Regions from separate parts of the Homo sapiens genome. Here region 2 is linked to region 1. A link means that fine-mapping ties the variant in region 1 to the expression of a gene that starts in the linked region. Tissue or cell type: lung. Region 1 holds a variant in brackets; the other region holds the start of a gene. Each region is shown on its reference strand, or each on the opposite one.

Region 1 (2,917 bases):
TCCTACCAGTTCTGGAGATTTCTCTTTGTGCTGCAAAAAAGCTACTTATTGGCGAGAAGAGACGCTAATGTTGTCCAAGTTTGTTCCTTATCCCTGGTCTATTACAAAGAGAATGAGTTTCCAGGTACAGTCAAGGCATGGACTCCTTGGGATTCGCAGTGATAGGGACACAGAGATGTAATATCTGCCCACCCTACTGTGCAGAACAGTCTACTCCCCAGGATCACCCCATCCTCATACATTGGGACTCCAGGGCACAGGTAGGGCTGCCGTTTTGTATTGGAACTTAATACTATTCACAGAAACCTCATGTTTAATGGTGCATTAAACCAGCAGTACAATCTTAATTTCACAGATTTAATCCTAATATCAGAGTTCAAACATTAACAAATTAAAACATTTTCTCACTGTCATTTTGAATAATGATCTTTCCAGTTCTTCCACTCAACAGTAAAACCCCTGCCCAGTTAGAAAAAGGAAGAATTCCCATAGAAGCTAAGGAATGTGAAAGAATAGCATTACTGTTCCCTGAGAGCTGGCGAGGTCTATTTATTCAAATGTATCAATTTTGGTAGAGATTGAGAGGCATTCCTATAATTGACACCATATATTCTGGAGTTATTTCACTAGGAAGTGTGTGTGAATTGCTGAGGTAGCAGGGAGGGAGAGCCTACAACTGCACAGGGGCCTCTTGAGTCTTTTCCTCCAGCTACACACTCAACATCTGGATTTGCTGCTTTCAGACTGGGAGTTGACCAGGGCCTTAGACAAATTACAAAAAATTGTATTGTTTGCAGTCTTCTTCTGTCCTCTAGAGGGGAGGATGGAGAAATTTAGGAGTGACCAACGGGGAGGTAATTGAATCATGGGGGTCGGTCTTTCCCATGGTGTTCTCGTGATAGTGAATAAGTCTCATGAGATCTGATGGGTTTATCAAGGGTTTCTCCTTTTGCTAATTCCTCATTTTTCTCTTGCCAGCACCATGCAAGAAGTGCCTTTCACCTCCTGCCGTGATTCTGAGGCCTCCCCAGCCATGTGGAACTAACTGTAAGTCCAATTAAACCTTTTGTTCCTAGTTTCAGGTATGTCTTTATTAGCAGCATGAAAACAAAGTAATACATCTTCCCTCTCCTTTCTTTAAGCAGAAGGAAGGGTCTCATTTGGAGTTCTGAACTGTGCTTCCTGGGGTTACGGGAGAAGTGTTGCAAGTACTCCTTTAACCTTTGTTGCTGGTGTCTCAGTAGGTCACACGCCCCCTTCCTGTTCGCTGCCTCTGAACCCAGCTCAGCACTAGGAGTTGCTTAGAAATTACAGTCCTTGTGGCCTAGGCTGCCTTTCAAGTTTATTTAG[C/G]GTCCCAGAGCCCTTTAGTCCATGGTGGGGAGGTTTGCTGGAACTCAATCTCCCATCACTGGGATAGGACATTTCCCTCTGGCTAGGGCTGGTTCAAATGCTCCCTCTATGGGCAGGCACAGCTGAGTACAGCCCTGTGCTGCTTTCTGCTGTCAGAGGGCAGCCATGAATTTAAGGCAAAGTCTCACACGTACTGTACTCTCCCTCTCCCAAGTGCACAGATTCTCCATGCCATGTGGCTGCTGCTAGGGATGGAGGCAGGGTGGGGATGGCAATTCAAGACTGTCTTTCCTACCCTCTCCAGTGCCTCTTTTAGTGATATAGAGTTAAAATCAGACACTGTGAGTGTTCACAAGATTTTTGGTTCCTATGAAGATGCTCCCTTTGCATAGACAGTTGTCAAACTTGATGTTCCTACCGAGAGGGTGGGACCATCGATGGTGCCCTCCATTCAGCCACCTTGCTCTACCCTCCATAATGTCTTTCAAATGTTATAACCTCTTTCATTTTTTTCAATGCTTTAAAAAAATTATATTCAGGTTGTTGTAAAAGTTTTATGACTTGGCTCCAAACTGTCACCTTGCCCTGGAAATCTCTATAGCCATATCTTGCATCATATCCTGGAGTTATTAACCAGTTATGTGTTCTACAGTAGTCAGGAATCAAGCAGTGGGTCTGGAGGACCAGGACAGAGAGTGAAGTTGGAGGGCAGTGAGTGCTGAGATGCCCCACCCATTCAGGTCCCTCTGTAGTGCCAAACATTACTTCCCCCTACACTCCCAACCCAGCTGAGGTGCATCTAGTTTACCTGAGAAGGGCCACAGGGAGCATGGAGAAGCACTCCAGTTCCCATGGAGACTTGGCAAGGGCTAACCATGCAGCACTAGCTGGAGACAGCTAAGTTTTTAGAGCCTTGGAAGCAAGAGTGTGAATATGACCTTGTTTTGACCCCTCCTGCCAGGTGATTCATGAGCTGTGGGGGGTCCAGACCCACTGATGTCCAGTCAGGCCACAAAATGCAGTAAATGGAAGGAGGCCTTCCCCCATACTTATGACCCAAAGAACTGGTAAAGAATGCAGGAGCTCATCTGTTCTTATGTTTAGAAGTTTCCATGTTCTGATTCCCCTAAGAGGAGACTGCACCAGACATAGGACTCTCATTTGTTTAAAAACAAACAAACAAAACAAAACAAAAAAAAACAGAATACATCACAACACAAAGAAGTTGAAAAAAAGAGGAGCAGTCTGATATCTTGGAAGGAGAATAGAGATGTTTAAAACATTGACTGCAACAGTGGCAGGTCCTCAAGAGATGGAACTACGTGAATGAGCAGATGGAGTTAACTGTTCAGATCCTCTGATCATAGAGAGGGAGAGAAGATTGAAAGTGGATGAAGACTGAAGCACAGAGTCGTCTCACAGAGACATGGCCAACCTCAGTGACTCCAGCATGGGAGACACTGATAGACCACAGTAGCCTGCAGAGTTTTGGAAGGGACAAGCCTTATTCTAGTGCCAGCTGCCAACTGCTGTTTCCTCTTAAGGACCTAGCAAGTCATCACTCCAC
Region 2 (2,917 bases), not on the chromosome of region 1:
TCAGTCAACTTATTAGACAGTTATCACTCAAAAGATATTTATCACTTTGAAGATTCCAAGGATTTTAGGAGTTGTATGCCAGGAACTGGGGGATGAAAAAATATATTTTACAATATCACAAGGGATAAAGGTCACACAGCAAATTGTGCAACATGGGTACACATTCAAGACAGTCAGAATTCATGAACCTATGCTCTTTCCTTTATACCACAAAACTGGAAAATGCATATGCCCTCAGACTCACCTCTAATATGATCTTTGTCAGATCAATGCTATTTTCTTAAGTTAAAAAGAAAAACAAGAAACTCCTCTCATGTATTGAGTACTTAGCACTTTATGGCACGCAGTCCACTTGTACCTATAACAACACCACGAAGTAGGTACCATTGTTATCAACCACATGTTATAGATAAGGAAACTGAAGCTCAGAGAGGTTAAGTAATATTCCCAAGGCTGCCTAGCCAGGTCATGGCAAAGTCAGGGTTTAAACCCACAATTGGCTAATACCCAAGCCCACATTTTTTTTTTTTTTTTTTTGAGATGGAGTCTTTCTCTGTCGCCCAGGCTGGAGTGCAGTGGCGCAATCTCATCTCACTGCAAGCTCCACCTCCCAGGTTCATGCCATTCTCCTGCCTGCCTCAGCCTCCCGAGTAGCTGAGACTACAGGCGCCCACCACCAAGCCCGGCTAATTTTTTTTGTATTTTTAGTAGAGACAGGGTTTCACTGTGTTAGCCAGGATGGTCTCGATCTCCTGACCTCGTGATCCGTGGGTCTCGGCCTCCCAAAGTGCTGGGATTACAGGCGTGAACCACCACGCCCGGCCACCAAGCCCACATTTTTAACAACCACTCCAGATGGCTTCATCTATCCTTAAAGATGAACTCACTGTCACATTGGATCCTATAATAAAGGGGATTCTAAAATCATCCAGTCCTTTGAGCAGCAAAGGCAACTTAACTTTCCTTTTACAGAGGAAGTAATTAAGGCTCCAAGAGGTGACAGTGTTAAGGCCACAGATCGCTGATATTGCACCTGTAAGCTGGGTCTCATGCCACTTGGGGTTTTGCATCCCATCTCCCTAAAAATCTCCAACCCATCCTCTTAGACAAGTCCCAGCCCAGAGCACTAAAAGGGACCCAGGAGTGCTGCCTCCCAGGAGAAGGGGCCTCCTGGCTCTCAGAACATGAGATTTACAGGCAGACAGGCAGCCTGGCAGAGGGTGGCAGCTTGATGCCCACACTTCATAGCTCCTGAGTTTACCTTGGAGGAGAGAAGAGAAGCAATCTTCAGCCCGGAGCCTGCTGATAGATGGGCACAGCAGCGAGTAAACGGTTCTCCGGCTGAAGGCTGGCTTTTTATCATCACTTGTGGATCCTCCCACGTCTCACCCTAGGCAGCCAATCCCTGTCGGAGTTTCTATTTCTGCACTCTGCAGTTTCATTTTCCCCTCTCTCCCAGCTCCTGCACTCTGCAGAGTTTCATTTTCCCCTCTCTCCCAGCTCCGCCCAGCGGGAACATTTGTGTGCTGCCTGCTGGCAGAAAAATGCACTTCAAGCTGAGGACTTTTGGAGCCGCTAAGGGTATTCAAAGCATGTCACACTATGATGAGAGCCACGGCCATACTGGGCTTAGTGAAGCCTGATCACCAGCTCCCCCTGGGGCACACAGGCCTTTCACCATTCAGTCCAATTAGTAAACAACACCTATCATTTATTGAGCACTTGCTGCATGCCAGGGTCTGTGCAAAGTGCTCTATTTACATGATCTTTTTCCAATCCCACAGTAGTCATGTGACATACCATATGCTGTTTATAAACCCCCAGAACTTTGGAAATTAAGTCACTTTGTTCCATTGTTCTCTCAGGCTGGCTGCTTCTGGGTCATGGGCATATGGTAAGACCAGTGAAGCCTGTGTTCATGTGGCCATCATGATAGATCTTGAGTTTCAAGATGGGTCCCCTGGCCCTAGGTAATGAACTGAGCATTCTTTAAAGCCTTTGGATGGTGATGCTTGAAGTGCTATGGGTCAGAAATGCAACCTCTATTTGGAGAACATAGAAATTCCAGTAAGGATGAATCATTGCCTTCTCCCAAGTGGAAGGGGTCTGAAATAATTGACCTGCCACCAGATGGCTGGCTATTCTCATTGAGAAATTTTGCCATATTGCTACCTGCTGCTGGCAGATTGGCTATATTTTGGCAATTGCCAGATCAGTTTTGGTGAGAGGGAGCCCAAGTTGTTGGACTCATTTCTAACCCCCATCCTTACCACCTTGGACACTCATAGGTCTATTGCAAGGCAATAGTGAGGCTAAGTTTAGAGGCTGGCTGACATCCACAGGATGGGACATCCTGGCCATTGGGCTGTAGAGCCTCCTCTGCAGCAGATGATCTCTGGTCAGCATTAACATGAGACATAGAGATCCAGGTGCTTTATGCCCATTCAGAGTTCATTCTTATGCCCCTAACCCACACCTGCTTATTCCCAATCTTCCAATCTTGTTCCATCCATGCCTTTGACCAACCAGCCAAGCCATTTGCCTCTTATTAGGAATTGGTGTATGTCTGTACTTCAGTCCATCTCTCTCTCTCTCTCTCTGCATACAGAGGGAACAACACGGTATACTGCTCCTAGTTCTGCCCCCTGGGAGGATTCACTATTATTCAGTGCCACCCCCAAATGGGGCTGTAATAGAGTGGTCCGTTTCCAGCTGATACCAAAATATTATACTGACTTATCTGTGAATTGAGTTTGACTCCTTTCCTCCATTATCTGTTGGTTGCTGGGAACACTCCATGAGGCCATATATATGGGTCAAAGAGAAAACCCAGAGAAACAGAGTTGGGCGCCACAGGACTCTGAGCTCCCTGTTTATTTAATTTACTCAAGCCTTTTAGACCCCTTTGCTCAGCCTT

Evidence for each region. PIP is the estimated chance that this variant, and not a neighbour inherited with it, causes the effect. A credible set is the group of variants that fine-mapping cannot tell apart.
Region 2: it holds the start of IFI6, and the variant in region 1 is the best candidate, but not a certain one, in a credible set for the expression of IFI6 in lung (TOPMed, PIP 0.62).

Annotation. Positions count from the first base shown.
Region 1 is chr9:21,412,454-21,415,370 of GRCh38, forward strand. No RefSeq gene overlaps it. Among named protein-coding and RNA genes, the nearest start is that of IFNA8, 4.8 kb to the left of the region's middle. The variant C/G (reference allele first, on the strand shown) is at 1,351.
Region 2 is chr1:27,670,862-27,673,778 of GRCh38, forward strand. IFI6 (interferon alpha inducible protein 6) reads right to left here and starts at 1,331. Exons shown (of 5, transcript NM_002038.4): 1 at 1,262-1,331. RefSeq lists an enhancer at 1,363-1,702.